Homo sapiens: one gene and its partners. The protein of the gene in region 1 purifies or fractionates together with the protein of each later gene. This does not show direct contact. Each region holds a gene or a part of one and is shown in the gene's direction. Other genes may lie near its edges.

What was found.
Region 2: the proteins of HMGA2 (region 1) and SMAD9 purify together in Homo sapiens (affinity purification with western blotting, with the first as the bait; one study listed by BioGRID). This does not show direct contact.
Region 3: the proteins of HMGA2 (region 1) and SMAD5 purify together in Homo sapiens (affinity purification with western blotting, with the first as the bait; one study listed by BioGRID). This does not show direct contact.
Region 4: the proteins of HMGA2 (region 1) and ETF1 fractionate together in Homo sapiens (co-fractionation; one large-scale study listed by BioGRID). This does not show direct contact.
Region 5: the proteins of HMGA2 (region 1) and SUPV3L1 purify together in Homo sapiens (affinity purification with mass spectrometry; one large-scale study listed by BioGRID and IntAct). This does not show direct contact.
Region 6: the proteins of HMGA2 (region 1) and VRK3 purify together in Homo sapiens (affinity purification with mass spectrometry; one large-scale study listed by BioGRID and IntAct). This does not show direct contact.

Annotation. Positions count from the first base shown.
Region 1 is NC_000012.12:65,834,483-65,837,984, forward strand, and holds part of HMGA2 (high mobility group protein HMGI-C), read left to right. Parts: intron 1-3,502.
Region 2 is NC_000013.11:36,913,738-36,917,239, reverse strand, and holds part of SMAD9 (mothers against decapentaplegic homolog 9), read left to right. Parts: exon of another isoform or gene 1-461; intron 462-3,502. UniProt on the Homo sapiens protein: Transcriptional modulator activated by BMP (bone morphogenetic proteins) type 1 receptor kinase. SMAD9 is a receptor-regulated SMAD (R-SMAD).
Region 3 is NC_000005.10:136,131,490-136,135,644, forward strand, and holds the start of SMAD5 (mothers against decapentaplegic homolog 5), read left to right. Parts: upstream 1-1,355; 5' UTR 1,356-1,473; exon of another isoform or gene 1,474-3,401; intron 3,402-4,155. UniProt on the Homo sapiens protein: Transcriptional regulator that plays a role in various cellular processes including embryonic development, cell differentiation, angiogenesis and tissue homeostasis.
Region 4 is NC_000005.10:138,515,735-138,519,236, reverse strand, and holds part of ETF1 (eukaryotic peptide chain release factor subunit 1), read left to right. Parts: intron 1-369; coding exon 370-545; intron 546-1,536; coding exon 1,537-1,676; intron 1,677-3,502. UniProt on the Homo sapiens protein: Component of the eRF1-eRF3-GTP ternary complex, a ternary complex that mediates translation termination in response to the termination codons. The eRF1-eRF3-GTP complex binds to a stop codon in the ribosomal A-site.
Region 5 is NC_000010.11:69,190,233-69,193,734, forward strand, and holds part of SUPV3L1 (ATP-dependent RNA helicase SUPV3L1, mitochondrial), read left to right. Parts: intron 1-1,422; coding exon 1,423-1,534; intron 1,535-3,502. UniProt on the Homo sapiens protein: Major helicase player in mitochondrial RNA metabolism. Component of the mitochondrial degradosome (mtEXO) complex, that degrades 3' overhang double-stranded RNA with a 3'-to-5' directionality in an ATP-dependent manner.
Region 6 is NC_000019.10:49,990,871-49,994,372, reverse strand, and holds part of VRK3 (serine/threonine-protein kinase VRK3), read left to right. Parts: intron 1-1,420; coding exon 1,421-1,513; intron 1,514-3,502. UniProt on the Homo sapiens protein: Plays a role in the regulation of the cell cycle by phosphorylating the nuclear envelope protein barrier-to-autointegration factor/BAF that is required for disassembly and reassembly, respectively, of the nuclear envelope during mitosis.

The DNA of each region.
Region 1 (3,502 bases):
TAAACACTTTTCCTTCCTTTCCTCTTGCCCTCCCTCCCTCCCTTCTTCCTCCTTCCTTTTTTTCCTTCCTTCCTTCTTTCCTTCCCTCCCTCACTCCCTCCCTTCCTCCCTTCCTCCCTCCCTCCCTCCGTTCCTCCCTGCCTCTCTCTTTGCCTCCCTCCTTCCCTTCCTTCAACAAGTATATAGTGAACACCTCCTGTACACGAGGCACTAGTGCTAAGCACTGTTTTCAAGCTCAAGAGATGTATTTGCTAGTGAATTTCTTTCCTAATTAGTTTTTAAAATATGCAGTACATTGAAGAGCCTGGAGTACAGAACTTCTTAGAGAAAGAAATAATTATATTTCCCATTTAACATTTCTCCTAATCTTCATGGACTTGCTTCTAAATATATCATAAAATTAAGTGTACAGTTTTGAATCTGAAGTTTAAAACATAAAAATATTAATGAGGGCAAACAAGGGAGAAATGACACTTTTAATGAGATATGATTGTTGTAAATATTCGCATAATAGTGCTGGTAACAGTCTGAAATTTCAGTTCTTACCAATGAGAATTCCGACCATATCTCCCTTTTCTCTCTTGATGTGAGCAATAAATAGTGAGAATTAGTTATGCCTCTGTTATACATGGGTTTGTAGTATAAAGCCAAATTCTATTCTGGCAAAGGAAAACCAAATATACACTTCTACAGTATTGCATATGTTAAAACAAAACAAGCCTCCTGAATGTTTTGTTTGTCTTTTTTGAAAAATAATATCCTGAAGAGCATTAAACACAGGAAAACAATATTAAAGCTGATGTTTTCCAATATGTAAAAATCCTGGATCTAAGCTGGTTTACAAACTAAAACCCTAACTTGTTTTGCAGCCTTTGTGGAGTTTGATTAGAATGATTAAATAATGTGGGTTTTAAAGAACAATGAAAACCTCCCAGATTGACGCCACACAGCACAGCTAATGTGTTTCTTCTAGATGTAGTCTCAGAAGAGGGTTTCAGTTTACATGTAACACTGGCCTGAACGACCAAGGAGCAAGTTTGCTTTTAACAAGTCCGAGTGATAATCGTGATATTTTGCCCTTTAGTTAATGGTGCAAATTTTATTTCTCAATAGGCTTTTTGTAAATGAGATGCTCATTTAAAAGTCATCTTATTTGCAGGGCTTTTTCTGTTTTTGAGAGATTTGCTTTCTCTGATTTTGAAATACAGTGAAACTCTTTCAGAAAAAAAACCTCTCTCTTCAATAGATTTTAGATACACCCAGATCACATCATGGCCCCTGAAACATAACAACCGTGCAGAAAAAGCCTGGTGTAGCACTGTTAACTTCTAAGGTCAATAGGCTCCTTCTCCCACCCTGACTTCACACCCCCTTTTCAATAAAAAGGATTTCTATTTTCCATGTTTGTGTAATTTACTACTGGGTTAACTGTGCAATCTTACAGTTGCTTCCAAAGATTAAGTCAGATGCTGCTTCTGTGCTAGAGAACTCCACACTCATGTATAACTCACTATGCAATAGCCAAAGGGATCCTTAAAAGCCTCATTCTAAAGGTGACAGATGGGTGTGAAGGAATACTTGCATTGACCAAGGCTTCTGTGAGAGGAAACTAACTTGAAGAAAAACTCCCTTTCTGGGAGGCAGAGGCGGGCGGATTACGAGGTCAGGAGATCGAGACCATCCTGGCTAACATGGTGAAACCCCGTCTCTACTAAAAATACAAAAAATTAGCCGGGTGTGGTGGCAGGCGCCTGTAGTCCCAGCTACTTGAGAGGCTGAGGCAGGAGAATGGAGTGAACCCGGGAGGCGCAGCTTGCAGTGAGCAGAGACCGCGTCACTGCACTCCAGCCTGGGCGACAGAGCGAGACTCCGTCTCAAAAAGAAAAAAAAAAAAAAAGAAAAACTCCCTTTAAGGGTTCCATCTAGTTAGGAGTGAAAGAACACTTATGGAGCACCTCATGGGAGGCAGGAACTTCTAAGTACTTCTAGGAATGATGTCTCACAGGAGGAGTCATCTCCATTGCACGGATGAAACCAAATTGAGGTCTTCAAGGACCTGCCCAAAGTCATAAAGCTAAAATGGAAGAGCAGGAATTGGAATCTAAGCGTTCCAAGGTAGAGTCTGTGATCTTCTCAGGGCACCTCCCTCTCCATGAGGCAATGCTCTGAAGAGGGTATTATTTACTTGACACTCTGGGCTTTCGCTAAATTCATGCCCTTGGGACTGAAGGTAAGACAATGCCACTAACCTCTGACAACAAATGATTCCTTTGTGGAGCCATTCAAAAGTGATAATAAACAATGATTCAGAGTGTCCAAATCAGATGGTTAGATAGAACCCCTAAAGGCTACCAGGTTTTCTTTTGTCCTGGGAAATTAACTGAATCAGTGACAATTTTAGTTTCCTAAAGTATTTTTTTATGGTAGCAAATGCTTGTATACTACCGGGTAGTAGCATTGTTAAGAGGCTAGGAGCACAGTCTTTACAGTTAGACAAAACTGGGTTCAAATCCCAGGTCTGCCACTTACCTGCTTTGTTTGTGACCTTGAGCCAGTTGTATACCTAACCTATCTAAGACTTAGTTGTTCATCTACAAAATAAGAGGAATAATAATACCCACTTTATAAGGCTGCTGTAAGGATTAACGTAACACATGTGACTGACAATCGAGTGCCTGGGATATTTTAAATGCTCAATATTTGTGAGTTAACATTACAGTCATATAGAGTTTGCGTTAATTCATGGGACCTGTTGGATAGTAATGCCAGATCAGGGAGATACTATTTGGTGAGAAATGTTGTGGCTTATTTTATCTCTCATCTACCTGTCTGTCTATCTGCCTATCCATCTATCTGTTTGTCAACTATCATGTAAAGCTATTTGTTTTTACCAGGCAGATTGAAGAGAAAAAGAGGAAAGTTTCATTTGGCAGTGTAGACAGTCAATATCACTGTACCAAGTACCCCCACCGGCTGCTAACTCAGATAACAAAAGTAAAATGTGGAACAAGGTATCCTGGTTCAAGTTACCTGTATTTGTGTGTTAATATAGCCATGGATGATTCTTATACATGAAACAATATGTACTAAGTTTTCTTTATCCTAAAAAGCAGGAACACGTTTTTATAGATGTATGTGATATGTGTGTGTATTGGTGTGTTGTTGTGTATGAAGATTGGACTAGGGCTGACAAAAACGGAAAAACTAATTGCTTTATAAATAATGTTAACAACTGTGATATCAGAAAAATCTTCTGTGAAGTAAAGCAATGAAATAAACTCTCAAGATAGAAATGTATTCATGTTAAGTGTGGGATTATGGTTAATAAAGTACATTTTTAATTAATCATTATTTCTAGGCACATATAGTTTTAATCACTGGGACAAACTGATGATTTCTGCCTGCTTTTTTTTCCTCTGCTTTAGGTGAACTGATTGACAGGTGATTGTTTCAGGCAAGGAACATTAAATTAAACATGTAGAAGTGTGCAAATATTTGTTAT
Region 2 (3,502 bases), on another chromosome or scaffold:
TTTTGTCTCTTAAGAAACTTGTGTCAACTAAAGTTGTTAGGATTTCAAGATATCTGTTAGCATTAGGAGTCATTATACCCATGAAAACTGGATGTTCTTCTTGCTTGGTGGTCTTCATCCTGACACTTCCTACCCCAAAACCATGACGGACACCTCGGCCGCACTTGCCTGACTTGTATTCTGCTCTCCTTTGGTGTCGGCTTCCTTTTGTGTTAGGCTGACCCAAGACCACTTTTCCAGGCTTATCTTCCCGGTCTTTCCCTATTTTATGCTGCAGTTAAAATAGCAAATGCTAGTTTCCATGCATACCCTGGCTTTCCTCTCCTGTGCACCTTTACCCCACGCTGAGGCCTTCCCAGCTTCCCCACCTCCCACAGGATCCTCAAATATGACTTCTTCATCTTGTATGCCCTGTTCAGGCGCTGCCTTCACGGGACTTTCTGTGATGACCCTGGTCCCAGGTATGTCCTCCTTCGAGCTCCTGTGGCTCTTCGCCTTTTCAACTCTTACCTGTTTTGTATTAAGTTACTCATAGACTAATTTATTTCTTCCCCTCAGACCATCCTTACAAGATCCAGGAAGGAAGGGACTGTTTCATCTACCTTTTTTATTCTCTGAATGCTGACCACAGTGCCCTTTATAGTACTCTATCAATAAATAACAAATACATGACACATTTTTTCACTGAACCCATGGTCCCTCCTGAAATAAAGTCTGTAAAAGCATTTCACCCATAGGATAAAGTCCATCTTTCAAGAAGCTGGTGTTGAATCTGAGCTGAGGACTAGTTCAGAGGCCTGAAATCCCCTCAGCCCAGTTGAGAGCCTCCTTCTCCTGAACATTGTGGCTGAGCATTACAGTCAGGAAAAGCTTCTATGATACTCTTATTGCATTAGCAGTTTTCCATATCAGATTCACTAAATACACAATGGAAGCCATTTAGTAGAAAAACAGATTTTAATGTGATACGGCTACCACAATGAAACACTAATGTGATTCCACAGAAAATTGCTAACACGATATGCTGATTCCTCCCCCCACCATAGCCGCATAAAAATTGATACTGTTTTTAATGTATGTGTTTCAAACTATGCTCACAAAAGAAAAGCAGACTGCTACTGAGATGAGCTGCTGCTTTGTTCACGTTGGATGTGTAAAGGGTCTTGTTATCAGCCTCGTCAGGCAGAATCTGCCTTCTGTGCCTTGGTCATTCTATTATCGAACAATACTAACTCTCATTTTAAAATATATCATGTTCTGTGTAACAATCCAGTATTAAAGTTAATATGATGTGAAAAAATAGAATTTGCTTATAAATGTCATGCCCATATAATATATTCAGTTGTACCGTTTTAATTGGGAAGCTCTAATCAGCTCAAAACGCATTTTTCAAGAATCAAAACGACTCCCAATATAAAATTTAAATTCAGAATTTAAAATAAAAGGCATAAATATTAAGGTGGATTGTATATGTGTGTGCACACGGTTGTAACACTTTAGAAGTCATAAGCACTGAAGAGATTATGGTTCTTCCCCCTCATTCCCAGCCCACATTTAATTCAAAGAAAAAAGTTTAACCCAAAGAATAATTGTAAAGGAGACCTATGTAGTTCTGATTTTTTCCTATAATGACAATTTCCAATTCCTCTTTTTTAGATATTAAATATCAAAATCTTCTCTCTCTCTCTCTCTCTTTGTCTCATTCTTTGGTACTCTGATTAGCTGATTCACTGGTGGGGATTATTTTTATGTGAATTTCCCCTTGGGGAAATTTAATACTTAATATCTGATCACTTCCTTTTCTTTTTCATATTTAATTCTGAGGGACTATAAATAGAAAACATGTACTCCTCAGTCCCGAGGAGAGTTTGGTGCTGCAGTTGCGAAAAGCAATCTTCAGTTTACAAGCACTAGGAGTGCCAGGGATGCCCATTCATTCTAGGACTCCAGTTGCCAGTTTTCTATCACTGAACAAAGGAATCTGGATAGCATACATGTGGTCTTGCGGCCATTCAAACGTGTTGGTGACATTGGGGATTCTGAGTTGAGGATTCTGACGACTTAGAGTTTGCAAGTAGTAGAAGTGTGAACACTGTGAGGTAGCCACATCCTGAACTCACTGACCCCAGGAGCACATCCCTAGATACACTGGGCCATTTGCCTTAAATGACTGCTTTAATCTATGGAATATCTTCTTCCATACAGCCTGTTTTTTACTTTTCATCTGTTAAAGTGCTTAGAAGCCTATCAAATACAGATTTACTTTGGTTACTGTGTATTTTGATTTGTTTTCACAAAACGCAATAATTGTGCAATGGTTAATGTCATTCTAAAGGATTTTGTCCTACGTACTTGTGGGCTATGGAAAGCTTACAGCAGATTTGCAGGTCTTTTTTAAGAAGCATTTGATGGATGGTAGCGTTCAACTGAAGTGCCAGGAGTTGCTTTCTGAATTCTTGTATCTAAATTTAACTGACTTGGTAGTACCACATTTCAGGAGTTAATGGTAACGCAGAAAGGGATTCACAGATTCCATCAGTTTCCCACTTTGTGGCAGAATATTTGACATCTCTTATCAGTACACTTCATCATAAGTTCATGAATTCATCTTGCTCCTTTCTTTGCTGAGAATCACAGTGAGAGAATTGGAGTTTGGCTGAGAGGAGGAGTGAGGAAGGAAGAAGGAAGAGTAAGTTTTTTTTTGTTTTGTTTTTGTTTTTTGAGATGGAGTCTCTCTCTGTCGCCCAGGCTGGAGTGCAGTGGCACCATCTCGGCTCACTGCAAGCTCCACCTCCCGGGTTCATGCCATTCTCCCGCTTCAGCCTCCCAAGTAGCTGGGACTACAGGCACCTGCCACCACGCCCGGCTAATTTTTTGTATTTTTAGTAGAGACAGGGTTTCACCATGTTAGCCAGGATGGTCTCGATCTCCTGACCTCATGATCCGCCGGCCTCGGCCTCCCAAAGTGCTGGGTTTACAGGCGTGATCCACCGCGCCTGGCCCGAGAGTAAGTCATTTTAAGGCTTGGGCAGTAGCACTGTTGAGAAGTTTGAGGCACCTAAGTGTGGAAAGAGGGTGTTACAGAAAGCAGATTGGCAGATGCCAAAGGTAGACATCACATATTTGAATTAGTGTTAGTAGTATGAAAGGCACCTGCGTTGTGAGTTGAGAGGATCCTAGTGAGCTGGCCAGGGAAGTACATTAGCACTCATGACATTGTTCTAGGGGAAGGTGAATTCCAGTTTCCAAATAACTATGCAGGATTGAACACCATTTGTTCATAAAGCAAGACCACCAGTGATTGATGATATGGGTGATTATTATTAATGACATAAGTGATTATTAGAAGCCAAGAATGGTGGTAATGAATGTGGAAGATGAAAAATGTGTTAAGCTAAAAAGATTTTAGGTCTCATGTGGTTTTCTTTGTCTTGTTTATGCATTTAGTCATTCTTTGTTTTCTAGTGGAAGTAGAATTTTATTTTTAGGAATAGGAGTTGAA
Region 3 (4,155 bases), on another chromosome or scaffold:
GGGTCCTTATTCCCACATTTCCCTATGGTAACAGTTGGCTGGAATGAAATAGCAGTGACCCCTTTGGTCTCTGGAACTAGACACTCACTCTCTGGTCTCTTCCCCCACTTCCCCTTCACTCCTTTACTAGCCCTCTGTCACCATTTCAGATGGCCACCCCTAATGCAGAGACTTCTGGACATTTATTTAGTTTCTTCTCCACAGAAATAAACTTCTAGAGCCTGGAGCAAAATAGTGGCTGCGCCATTTGTGTGTCAGATGAGATGACCCTGGCTCGGGCCATGGAGGTGGCAATTGAGGTGTGAGAAATGGTCAGATTTAGGATAAATTTTGAAGAAAGAGTCAGTAGAATTTCTGATGGATTGGATTAGGGTGTCAAAGAGCATTCCAAAATGACCCCGATTTTGATTTTTACTTATTTTAAAAAGAAAACCTATAATAGAACATTGGAGAGCCAGTATTGACCTTTTCAAATAAAAACAAAATTATTCAAAAGCTTTTTCTTACTAGTACTATTCAAATCGGGTACCCTATGTGGTACCAATATTATATTCTAGGAAATACTGACGGTTTTGGAAATTTGGAGGAAAAAGCATCGAGAAGAGCTCCAATTACTTAGAAAAGAGAGTCCAGGAGATGGGGTGGTGTATATAAGCCTATGGATGGTGTCTCTGCAACTCAGTGGCCCCGCCTGTCCAGGGGCTGGGTCCCCACGGGATCTCCCTCCCCACAAGGAGGTGGAGAGGCTATGTGTCTTGAACAACTGGGGTTGCGATCCAGTGTATGGGCAGTCCCACTCCTGGAACTCCAGGGTGGGCACTCGCTCCATTTCCACAGGCCCTCAAGGGTTCCAGGATTGCCCCGTGGGAGGGGTTTTAGTGCTGCATCTAGTAAGAAGCTGTAAGATGCTCAGAAACATGTTTTGAAGCTACTTTGCACAGAAAGAAGACTCTTCATTCAGATTTGTATTACAGATCAATAAAAGTAGCTAAGTCGTATCTGAAGATGTTTTTGTTTACACTTTGTATGTGACAGAAAACCTCCAGTTGTCTGTGTCAAGGACAATTACTTAATTTTATTACAATGTATACTGATTTGGTTAGTGGAAGCTTCTAGCGCCTACTGTGGTGGTGGTGGGAGCTATCTGATTCCCATTCCCAGGCCTGGCCATCGACGCGAAGGCCTCCAGCTGATCGGAAGTCGGCGTTGGCCGGCGCGGAGCCCGGCGCGGAGGCTTCTTTCAGCCGCCCGGGCAAGACACCCCTCCCTCGGTCCCGCAGCGGTCACTCCGCCTCTGGCGCGCATGCGCCGACCCCAGCGGGCGTCCTCCCGGGCTCCCTCTCCCTCCCTCCCTCATCCGGGTCCTGGGCGAGCGGGCGCCGTGCGCGTGTCCCGCGGCCGAGCTGCTAATAAAGTTGCAGCGAGGAGAAGCGCAGCGACGGCGTCGGGAGAGCGCGCCTAGCCGGCTCGCGAGTGAGTGAGGGTCCCCGGCGCGCGCGGGCGAGGGGAACTGGGGGCTGCAGGCTCTGCCCCGGCGGACTCGGGCCGAGGCGGGGGCGTTCGGCCGCGGACGGAGCGGAAACGACCCAGGGCCTGTCGGGCGGGAGGTAGGCCGAGTCCTGGCCTGCCGGGGTCCCGGCTGGCGGACACGGTGCGGCCCAGCGGCTGCGGAGGCCTCGCTGGCTGCCCGGGGCGTCCTGAGGCGGGGCCGGGGCTGGCCCTCGTCCCAGCCCCGCTGTTACCGCCCAGACTTTGGAGGGAGGCGTCTGGGACGCCCTGGAGGGGACCCCCTGACCCCGCGCTGTCCTGGGGAGCGGTTTGCTTTCCTAACTCATCGGATGTACCACCCTGGATACACACCCTTGATAGGACTGCGGTGCTCGGCCGGGCAGCCTGGGCTGCTGCACTGCGAAGCTGTCCAATGGCTTGATGAATCCGTGCCGCCGTCGCTTTGTGTTTCAAAGATAAGGATCCGCGCTTATCGGTGGGAATTACACTCTGGGCAGTTGTGACCGGCTACTGCAATCAGCTGGTAGTTAGACCTGGTTTCTGCCACTTGCCATGTCAGTTTTCACCACTGCAAGGATTTCTTCTACTTCATGTAAACTTCTCTGTGCTGCAAAGAGAATGCCAAAGCAGCGTCTTTTTGCCTTCACCATATTCAGCCGCTGGCCGGGTCCTATACTTCAATATCAGGGCTCAAATTAATATTCCAGTCTCTTCCCCTCCCCTTTTCCCCTCTCCTCCTTTCAGCTGCTGTTACTACGTGGAGTTTGGAGCCTAAGCTTTGAAAACTCCCATGTGGCGCGCCCGTCTTAAGTCTGAGCATGCTCAGTAGCCAAAACAGATTTTTGGTTGCAGAACTCGGGCGAGGATACTTGGGGTATTTGGACGTTTGCCGGCTTCCCAACAGAATGTTCCGGTTCTGGTGGTGATGGCATTGGAGAATGGGGCTTAGGCAAGCCTGTAGGTGAGGAATGGCTGAACACCCTGAGCCAGATGTTTATCTTGATTGTAAAGACAATGTTTCCTGACCAGCTGGAGCTTTGGGGGGGGGGGGGGGGTGTTGCGGGGGGAGGGAGCAATTTTGGTTGCTTGTGCATTTAAATGGGTGTGGCGCTAAGTATATCTTGTTTACCTTATCTTTCTGTGGAAAAGTTTTGATGTCTAGGTTTGTCACATCATGCCTGTTGCCTAGCACTACCAAAAGGGTTGTTATCTAGCAGCAAAGATTGAATAGGTGGAGGTCGTGGCTTGGCCTCACAGAAGTTGAGAGGAAAGGGTACTTGGGTTGCGTTTTTGAAAATTCGTATTTAAAACTAGAGTACTTGAATTTCCTTAGAGTACCTGAATTGCCCAGAGTGAATTAGTTTTTAATTTTAATTTGAAAGACAAAAGATTGAAAACCTTAGTCCCAGTAGGTTTAGTAACATTCCAAATAGCTTACAATTTCTGCTAGATGCCAATGCAGTAGTATCCATTGTGGGGAAAACAGTACCTACATTCAGTGTGACAGTTTCACATTTATGGATCCAAATATCATTATGAAATTAGTGTTCCAAATTTAAGGAGCTATTTGCAGATGTATAACAAATTATTTTAGTCTTTTATTCCTTTGGTAACTATTAATATTTTTTTCTCTACAGTGAAAATTGTAAAAATGCAAAACTTAGACAATTTAACAAAACTTAACCTTCATAAAGGTTGTAGATACTATGTTTAGATTTATAAAGTTTAATTTTGATGATTATTTGTGTGATTGTTCCTATACAGCTTCCTTTCCTTCCCTTTCCACATTGTTGCTCCCTCAGTCTTTTTTACATTACTGCTGTTAATTTACCCATGTATCTTTGTTAAAAATACCTTATTCATCATTTTGTGCTTCCATTCCTTTCAGATCATAGCTGAAATAAGCAAGAAAAGTTAGATTAACCTTCTCAACTGACTTTACTCTCAGGTTTTAAAGGCATCCACATGATATGGTCTAGTTAAAAGGAGGAAGAGAGCAGCAAACTGGAAAAAAAGAATAAAATATTTTCGTAGGTTCTGTACAGATCTGGTAGTATTATCTGCGTGTCTGGTTCACTGTGGTAGGCGCCACAGAAATGGGTAGATTGATAATGTGTTGGATTTCTTTCCCCTCTGGCAAAGTCAGCTATTAATTTCAGTGGGAGACAGTGGCAGAATGTTGTTACTAATGAGGTTTGAATCAGATTGTTGTTTACTGTTGGTTATGTAACATGTTGCTGGGAGTATTATTAAAAGTTGCATTCTGCAGCAAAGTAGAGGCAAGTAAATTCTGCTTACCCTCTTCACTGGGTTTTAATTCTTGGCTGAACCTGAAGGCACATTAGATTACAACCATAATTATACCTGGGCAGCCTGTCTGTTTCCTGTTTTCATCATGAACCCAAACATTATGATTTGCAGTGATGATCTTTTTTGTCCTTTGCATTGAACGGAGGCAGTGTGTTTTCTCCCTCTACTGAAAACAGATTTGTAACTTGGTCAAATTAAAGATTTTAGTGTTTTGAAAACTAGGCAGTAAAATACCAGTTTTTCATTTCTTAATACAGTTACTTAAGTTGAAATACCATCTAAAAAAATCTATTTCATATATATTCTTTGTCTTTATGTAAATTTTAATATTACTAG
Region 4 (3,502 bases), on another chromosome or scaffold:
AACCACCACATTTGAAGGCTCTCCCACGGACAGATTCACTACCAAATTCCAGCCTGTTGACACTCCTTATTTATCATAGATAGCTTCTTTCTTTAGGAAATGAGGTGTTTCTCAAGTATCTCTCCAAGTGTATTCTTTACATAACTTACCTCACTATTCAATCAAATTGAGCACTAGATTCTGAACACTGTTCCTAACTCTGTGTATACGTTCATAAACAAGACTAATATAGTCCCTACATTACTCCTTTGAGAGTGACCTGTTTCCATAACTTTGGGGCATCTCCCTGTAGCTTGCTTTTACCAGAGAGAAACATGAGTTTACTTACATGATATTTAAATCCCTAATGAGTTATTCTTTCTTCCACAGCAATGGCACCAGCATGATATCATTGATCATTCCTCCCAAAGACCAGATTTCACGAGTGGCAAAAATGTTAGCGGATGAGTTTGGAACTGCATCTAACATTAAGTCACGAGTAAACCGCCTTTCAGTCCTGGGAGCCATTACATCTGTACAACAAAGACTCAAACTTTATAACAAAGGTAATCTGGAGTTTGCTCCTTTTCCTTCTCTACACATTTTGGTTATGTTTTATACTGTGATGCTGCTATGGTGCTTTGTTCACTAATGTTCCCTTAAGTCGGCTGTCATCAGTGTCTCTTTGGCCTTGGTGGTTAGCTTTTTTGTTTTGTTTTGTTTTTTGTTTATTGAAAGTTAAGTAGGCCAGGCACAGTGGCTCATGCCTGTAATCCCAGCACTTTGGGAAGCTGAGGCAGGTGGATCACTTGAGGTCAGGAGTTCGAGACCAGCCTGGACAACATGGTGTGAAACCCTGTCTCTACAAAAAATACAAAAGTTAGCCAGGCCTGGTGGCACACACCTGTAGTCCCATCTACTCTGGAGGCTGAGGCGAGAGAATCAACTGGACCCGGGAGGTGGGAGTTGCAGTGAGCCACGATCTCGCTGCTGCACACTAGCCTGAGTGACAGAGTGAGGCGTTGTCTCAATTTTTTTTTTTTTTTTTTTTTTTGGGATGAGACAGAGTCTTGCTCTGTCACCCAGAGACTGAAGTGCAGTAATCCGATCTCAGCTCACCACAAGCCTCCCAGGTTGAAGTGATTCTTCCGTCTCAGCCTCTCGAGTAGCTGGGACTACAGGTGCCCATCACCACGCCTGGCTACTTTTTGTATTTTTCGTAGAGATGGGGTTTCACCATGTTGGCCAGGTTGGTCTTGAATTCCTGACGTCAGGTGATCCGCCTACCTCGGCCTCCCAGAGTGCTGGGATTACAGGCGTGAGCCACCACCACGTCCAGCCTGTTTACTTTAAAGAATAAATCGTACTGAAACGTCTCAGAAGAAGTTTTAAAATTAGGGAGAGAGTTCTGCCTGAGAGATTTCAAGCTTTTTCTGCTTTATTTAAATTATGACTTAAAGGATCAGGCAGGGAAAATAGGCTATGGGAACATTTTCTATTAATTGACGAAAAACTAGATATGGGGTAAAGTAGAAAAATTGTTTGTGTTCTTTGCAGTACCTCCAAATGGTCTGGTTGTATACTGTGGAACAATTGTAACAGAAGAAGGAAAGGAAAAGAAAGTCAACATTGACTTTGAACCTTTCAAACCAATTAATACGTCATTGTATTTGTGTGACAACAAATTCCATACAGAGGTAAGAAGTCAAACCCAGAACATTTTCATCGCTCCAGAATTCTTTCCCCGTACCCATTAGCAGTCAGTCCCCCATCCCTCCCACTTACCTGTCTCATTCTAGGCAACCACTATATTTTCTTTCCATAGATATGCTTGTGCTGTACTTCTTTTATTTTTATTTTTTTATTTTTATTTTTTTATTTTTTTTTTAGACGGAGTCTCGCTCTGTCTCCCAGGCTGGAGTGCAGTGGTATGATCTCGGCTCACTGCAAGCTCCGCCTCCCAGATTCAAGGGATTCTCCTGTCTCAGCCTCCTGAGTAGCTGGGATTGCAGGCACATGCCACCACACCCAGCTAATTTTTTTGTATTTTTAGTAGAGATGGTGTTTAAACACATTGGTCAGGCTGGTCTCAGACTCCTGACCTCGTGATCCACCCACCTTAGCCTCCCAAAGTACTAGGATTACAGGCATGAGCAACCCCGCCCAGCCTGGACATTTTATATAATGGAATCATATAGTTTGTGGCCTTTTGTGACTGGCTTCTTTTACTTTATACTTTTAAGGTTCCATGTGGTAGCATTCATCAGTACATTTCATCCCTTTTGATTACCAAGTAGTATTCCATTGTATACCTATATGCCATATTTCATATTTTATATAGCTTCTCGTTTCATCAGTTTTACATTTGAGTGGTTTGCACTGTTTGGCTGTTCTGAATAATGCTGCTGTGAACATTCATGGACAAGTTTCTATGTGACCATACATTTTCATGTTTCTTAGATTTGTGGAATCGTGTAGGTTATATAGTAATTATGTTTAACTTTTTAAGAAGTTGCTAGACTGTTTTCCAAACCGTTGTACCATTTTACAAAGCTGTCTGTTTTCAAAAAGTAAGGCAATTTACATTTATTATGACACTAGTCATTCAGCATGTTTTGAGACAGAGTCTCACACTGTCGCCCAGGCTAGAGTGCAGTGGTGCAATCTTGGCCCACTGCAACCTCCATCTCCATGGTTCAAGCGATTCTTGTGCCTCAAGCCTCCTGAATAACTGGGATTACAGGTGTGCACCACCATGCCTGGCTAATTTTTTGTGTTTTTTTAGTAGAGACAGAGTTTTGCCATGTTGGCCAGGCCTGTCCCAAACTCCTGGCCTCAAGTGATCTGCTCGCTTCAGCCTCCCAAAGTGTGTGTGTGTGTGTGTGTTTTGATTTTTGTGGGTACATAGTAGGTGTATATGGGGTACATGAGATGTTTTGATACAGGCATGCAATGTGAGCTATCACACTATGGAAAATAGGGTACCCATTTCCTCAAGCGTATATCCATTGTGTTACAAGCAGTCCAGTTATACTCTTTGAGTTATTGCACTCAGTTTTCACATAACAATTGTAAAATTTTTAGTAGCAGAACTGTAAGAACTCATTTTCCCCCCTTTCCCCTGAAACTTTTGAGTGACAAAGCTGCCATAGGATGAACTTGAACAGTGGAAAGGAAACCTCATTAGAGTGACCTAAATCAGTCAACAGTAGAACAATCAAGAATTCACAGCTGGCTCCTTAGTTCATTCTCTTGCCTTTCATCAACCTAGGGAAAAACCTCTACAGTGGAATTAGAACTGACATTTGTCGACAGTTTACAGTGGATGATTTTTGCTAACTTGATGGGAAGTCCATTTATAGTTGGATCTTGGTCGACTGCATAGACAATCCAGACTGTTTTTCTCTTCACTACCACACTCTACTTACAGCAGAGGGTTTTTCAGGGAGCCTCTCAGCCACTGAAACCACTTACCTGTATCTGGTTGGATGAAAGCCGATTTTGAATCTTGTTGATTTAAACA
Region 5 (3,502 bases), on another chromosome or scaffold:
CCTTTTATAGATTAGACCTCTGATGCTATCAGCTAGAGCTAATGATAAAGACTGAAGCTACCTTTTCAAAACTGAAAGGACTGAAGCCCTGTAGTCTGAGGCATCATTTTCACTAAATGGGCTACATTTTGGTTCATTGTTTTATTATGACTTTATAATGTGAGTTTAACCAGTTTTGGTAGGTAATTTGCATTCTCTTTTTTTTTTTCTGAACAGTTTGAGCAATTTACATACATAATACCTCTTTATCTGTAAATACTTGAGAATATGTTTCCTCAGAACAGACTTTTACGTAACCACAGGATATTTGTCTGAAGCAGGACATTTAATATTGATAGATTACTCTTACTTAATACACAATCTATATTCAAATTTTATCAATTGTCCAATTACACCCCATCCTCCACCCCTCCAGGGTTCTTTTCAGGGTCTTACACTGTATTTAGTTGTCATATCTCTAGTTTCCATTAATCTTGGACAGTTCCTCAGTCTTCCTTTGTCTTTCATAACCTGTACATTTTGGAAGACTATAGGTCAGTTGTGTTGTGAACTGTCTCTCAGTTTGGATGTGTCTGGTGTTTCCCCATGATTAGATTCAGGCTATTATGATGACCAGCCATCCCAGTTTGCCTGGACTTCTCCAGATTTAGCACCAAGAGTCCTCCATTCTGGGGAACCCATTAGTCCTAGACAAACCAGAATGGTTGATCACCCTGATACAGCATTAATGTTGGTCCCTCTCAGGGAATTATAATAGGAGGTCTTTACATTCTTAAATTGTATTTATAATGTTCTTCTTGAATATAGAAACAACTCATTTTAATGAAGTCAAATAGTTCAGAGATGTACAAAGTTAAAATGTGAAACTGCTGCAGTGTCTCATGCTTTTGTTACCTGAGGATTTAGCTGATTTGAGATGTTTCCAGGTTTACCCAAGTTGTGTAAGAGAGTGGCTCTTATTTTACTTTATTTTTTATAAAAGGGAAAAAAGCATTGGGAATTTTTTTTTTTTTTTTTTTGAGACAGTCTTGCTCTGTCTCCAGGCTGGAGTGCAGTGGCATGATCTCGGCTCACTGAACCTCCATCTCTCAGTTCAAGTGATTCCCCTGCCTCAGCCTCCCGAGTAGCTGGGACCACAGGTGTGCAACACCACTCCCAGCTACTTTTTCTGTTTTTGGTAGAGATGGGATTTCATCATGTTGGCCAGGATGGTCTCTATCTCTTGACCTTGTGATCTGCCCACCTCAGCCTCCCAAAGTGCTGGGATTACAGGCATGAGCCACCGTGTCTGGCCGTGGGAACATTATGTTTTAACTGTGAAACAAACTAATTTGGTGGTAGTGGAGAGAACACCCTGTTAAATATCCAAAACGTATTTTTGCATTATTTTCAATAATTCTAGTTTTTTTTCTGTCTTTCTAGGGTGTGCCATGTGACTTGGTGACAGGTGAAGAGCGTGTGACAGTTCAGCCAAATGGGAAACAGGCTTCACATGTTTCTTGTACAGTTGAGATGTGCAGTGTTACAACTCCTTGTATGTATATGCTGTTTAAGAAACTATGGTTTGGTATTTTTAATTTTTTTTTTTTTTCAAGACAGAGTCTTGCTCTGTTGTCCAGGCTGGAATGCAATGGTACTATCTCGGCTCACTGCGACCTCTGCCTCCCCAGTTCAAGCGATTCTCCTGCCTCAGCCTCCCAAGTAGCCGGGATTACAGGTGCCCGCCACCACACCCGGCTAATTTTTGTATTTTTACTAGAGACGGGGTTTCTCCATGTTGGTCAGGCTGGTCTCAAACTCCCGACCTCAGGTGATCTGCCCACCTCGGCCTCCCAAAGTACTGGGATTACAGGCGTGAGCCACTGCGCCTGACCATGGTATTTTTAATTTTAAAATACACTTGAACATGTGAAATACGATTTTTTTGTGTGAAGAAAAAATTTTAAAATCTAGAAAAAGAAGAGAATAAGTATGACAAACGTGCGATCCTGCCACCACTGACAAATGCCTGCACCTGAAGTTCTTTCCCTTTTTCTCTTAAAAGAGCTGAAATGTTAATAAGCATAATTGAAATTTCCTTTGTACCACTCTCCAGTTTAATTCCTCTCTCCTCTTTTGTTCTAACTGGTAACAGATATTTGGTGTGTATAGTTTTCCTGTCTCTTTTCAGGATATATATTATATCACTGATACGTATTACCAGTATTCTAGATTGTTGTGTTTTAAAACATTTATGTGATTATTGTATTATTATTGTTCTACCACTTGCTTGTTTACTCCACAAATGTGTTTAGATCTATCTAGTCTTATTGAAGTATCTATAGCTACATATTTGTAGTTATTTCATTTAAACTGTTTTATAGTATTCCATCTTAGAACTGAAATTATTTGTTCCCCATTTGTTAAAGGATATTTAGGTTGTTTAAAGTTTTTTCCTGTTATGTACACTGCCACAATGAGCTTCTATTTAAAGTTGTTTTGTTTTGTTTTTGAGTCAGGGGCTCACTGTGTCACCCAGGCTGAAGTGCAATGGCGCAGTCATGGCTTACTGCAGCCTCGACCTCCTGGGCTCAAGCAATCCTTCTGCCTTAGCCTCCTGAGTAGCTACAACTACAGGTGTGAGCCACCACACCCAGCTAATTTTTTATTAATAAATTTTTTGTGGAGATGGGTTCTTGCTGTGTTGCCCGGACTGGTCTCTAATTCCTGGCCTTGTGTGGTCCTCCCACCTAGGTCTCCCAAAGCAGTGGGATTACAGGTATAACCCACCGCACCTGGCCTTAACATTTAAGTGAAAATTAACTTTTTCCTTATTATGTAAGCAATCATATCTTCATTATTGAAAATATAAAAATGTAAGCAAGCAAACAGAAGAAAACAAATGTACATAATTTCCCAGTCCCACCTATCCGGAATCAATAGGTGTTAATTAACCCTATATATTTTCCAGACTTTGTTAATATTTGTGTTCATGTTGTGTATGCATATAGTTATATGTGCATGGTGGGTGTGTATATTAAACAAATAGGAAGGTACTTTACTATTTGGTAGCTTGCTTTTTTTCATTTTAATAATCAACTTTGTGAGAAGAATAGTTTTTAAAAAATCAATACATTATAAAGTAATATATTGTACAGTTGCACAGAAGTTTATAAATCAGAATTTCTTCTCTATGTCTTCTCTTCTAGTCTTGTTTGTACATATCCAGATCACGAAGTAGTTTTTTTTTTTTTTTTTTTGAGACAGGGTCTCACTCCTGTCGTTCAGGTGGGAGTGCAGTGGCACGATGACAGCTTATTGCAGTCGTGACCTCCTGGGCTCAAACAATCCTCCTGCCTCACTTTTAAATTTTTCTTTTGTAGAGAAGAGGTCTCACTTTGTTGCCCAGGCTGGCCTCGAACTCCCGGGCTCAAGCAGTCCGCCTCGCCTCGGCCTCCCAAAGTGCTGGGATTACAGGCATGAGCCACCATGTCCAGCCTCAATAAGTAATTTTTAATCTGAT
Region 6 (3,502 bases), on another chromosome or scaffold:
TCATCAGGCACTTGCTGGGTGCCAGACGCTGTCCCCGGGGCTGGGTGCAGAGCAGGGAGCAGCATAAACATGGTTTCTGTGTCTTAGAGCTCACAGTCTAGTGGGAGGGGCCAATAGTGAATCAAACAGTTGCACAAACTATGACAAGTGCTCTGAATAGAAGCGGCCCCTGCTGTGATTGAGAGTAAGAGGGCCCAGTTTGCATCGCTGGAGGGATGGACGTACCAAGGGAGCGACATGCTGAGTCCTAAGGTCTTTATGTTCAGTATCTGCAGTATGGCACTGCAGTGCGGAAGAGATGGAGTTGGTCTGGAGAGGTCAGCGGTGACCACATCACACGGGGCCTCGCACAGCAGGCTGAGGGGCTGGGATCTGTCTTGAGGGCACTGGAGAGCCACAAGAGTGCTGGGATTAGGGGAGGGCGGGGTCAGCTCTGGGTACAGAAAGGCCCTCAGGGGCCATATGGGGAGGGACTGGAATGGGGAGAAGAATCTGAGTGAGGGTCCATGTGGGAGAGGACAAGGCTGAGGAGGGTCCCGGGCCCCGGGGGTGGAGAGTCTATAGGAGGAGAACGAGCAGAATTTGGTGGACAGTAGAGCCCTGGGGTCAAAGAGGGTTGGGGATATGATCAGAATGTAGCTGACACTCAGGCAGCAGACACAATCAAAGAATTGGCCGGGCGCAGCAGCTCATGCCAGTAATCCCAGCACTTTGGGAGGACGAGGCAGGTGGATCACTTGAGCTCAGGAGTTCAAGACCAGCCTGGGCAACATGGCAAAATGCCCTCTCTAATAAAAATACAAAAAATTAGCCGGGTGTGGTGGCACCCACCTGTAGTCCCAGCTACTTGTGAGGCTGAGGTGGGAGGATCACCTGAGCTTGGGAAATCAAGGCTACAGTGAGCAGTGATTGTACCACTGCACTCCAGCCTGGGCAACAGGAGTAAGACCCTGTCTCAAAAATATATATATACACACAGCAAAAAAAGAGTCTGGAGCTCATAGGGACAGCTGGAGCTGGAGATCAAGATATAAATTGCTTAACAAGATTTATTTCTGCTCTCTAGGACAGGTGAGAAGAGCTCTTTGATATCCACAGGTGCTGAGTCATTTTTGCAGAGAGACATTAACCCCTTTTCCCTCTGCTGAGTTTGTCATCAGCTAAGAGAGAAATACAGGAGTAGATAGGAAGCCACGCTTTAGCTCAATTGATGAGCTTCCTGAGAGCCTGATTAGAGGCGTGCTCAATGTGCTGTCACAGCGGGCTCCTCATGCTACCCCGGATTTAGTCAGGTTTAACCCCCAGTCACAGTGTCGGACAACCCCAGGCCTTAATAGTGGGGCTCCCTCCTGGTCTGCACCATAGCCTCTCTGTGTTAGTCGTACTGCTCATGCAGACACTGACTTGCTTCTTCCCCCAGCTGGATGCCCTGGAGTTCCTCCATGAGAATGAGTATGTTCATGGAAATGTGACAGCTGAAAATATCTTTGTGGATCCAGAGGACCAGAGTCAGGTAAGAGCCAGCTCCTGCCCACTCTGGAAGATCTCTGGGCTCAGGTTCCCATCTGTCTCCAAATCTCTATTTATTTCATAGTGCTTATTACAGACAAAGGATTGCTGTCCATCATATATAAAGAGCTCCTTCAAATAAATAAGATAAGCAACTTAGTAGGAAAATGGACAAAGGATAAGAAAAGCAATTCTTAAAAAAAGAAATCCACAGGCTAGCTAAATAATATGAAAAGATATTCAACCTCCTTAGTAACTATAGAGATGTAACTTAAAACAAGATACTATTTTCACCCTTTGAACAAAATTAAGCATGATAATAATATTCATTGCTGATAAGGATATAAGGAAGTAGGAATTCTTCATATACTGTTGGAAGCATGAATTGGGAAACCCTTTTGGAAGGCAATAACAGTCACAGTTTTAAATGCACCTGTTTTTTGTCTTTGATTTTGTTTTGAGATGGAGTTTCACTCTTGTTGCCCAGGCTGGAGTGCAATGGCACGATCTCGGCTCATCACAACCTCCACCTCCTGGGTTCAAGCGATTCTCTGTCAGCCTCCTGAGTAGCTGGGATTACAGGCATGCGCCACTACGCCTAGCTAATTTTGTATTTTTAGTAGAGATGGGGTTTCTCCATGTTGGTCAGGCTGGCCTCGAACTCCTGACCTCAGGTGATCCGCCCGCCTTTGCCTCCCAAGGTGCTGGGATTACAGGCCTGAGCCACCGTGCCCGGCCAAAATGCACCTGTTTTTTGATCCACAAGTTCCTGTCTTAGGAAGGTGTCCTACCTATATATTCATAGGATTGTTCAAAGATAAGTGTACAAGATGTTCCTGGCAACACTGATTGTAATAGTGAAATGGGAAACACCTTAAGCGGGATACTGATTAAATAGTATTTTAAAGTAACTTCTAATTGCTCTTACAATTACAAATGACAGAAACCCAACTTTACATGCCTTAAGCCAAAAACCAAAAGGGACTGTGTGCAATGTATTAGTCCACAGAATGGAGCAATCCAGGACTGCACTGTCTCGGGCACGGCAGGATCCAGGAGCTCAAACCCTGTCATTGGGAAGCCGGCTCTCCCATCTCTGGACTCCTCATGCTTCTGCACTGCTCGTTGTCAGGCAGACTTATTCCTCATGGTGACAAAATTGCCACCAGCAAATTAGGCTTAAATCCCCAAAGCTTAGCAGCCCTGGCAGAAACAGACCTGAACTGCGTGGACTGAGAACTGGGGAAAAGCAATCCCAGATGAAAATCCTGGAACTAAGCATTAGGAATCTTCAGAGAAACAGAACTGGCAGGGTGTGTGTGTGTGTGCGTGTGTGTGTGTGTGTAGAGATTTATTATAAGGAATTGGCTTATTGATAATGGAAGCTAAGCAGTCCTGAGATTCTTCAGTTTGCAATCTGGAGACCTAGGAGAGCCAATGATGTAAGTTCCAATCCAAAGGCCAGCAGGCCTGAGACCCAAGAAGAGGGGTTGTTTCAGTTCAAGTCCAAAGGCAGGAAAAGACCAATGTTCTAGCTCAAGCAGTCAGGGAGGAGGAGCTTCTGGTTACTTAGCTTTTTATTCTATTCACATCTTGAGTTGATTGAATGAGACCCACCCACATTAAGGAGAATAATCTGCCTTGCTCAGTCTACAAACCCCAATGTTCATCTCATCCAGAACACCCTCATAGACACTCCCAGAATAGGGTTTGGCCAAATGTCTGGGCACCCCATGGCCCAGTCAAGTTGCCACATAAAAATGACCATCATGGCCAGGCCCAGTGGCTCACACCTGTAATTCCAGCAGTTTAGGAGGCCAAAGTGGAAGGATCGGATCGCTTGAGCCCAGGAGTTCGAGACCAGCCTGGGAAACATAGGGAACCTCATCTGTACAAAATAAAAAATAATAACCTATCCAGGTGTAGTGGCATACACATGTGGTTCCAGCTACTCAGGAGGCTGAGGTAGAAGGATCACCTGAGCCCAGGAGAT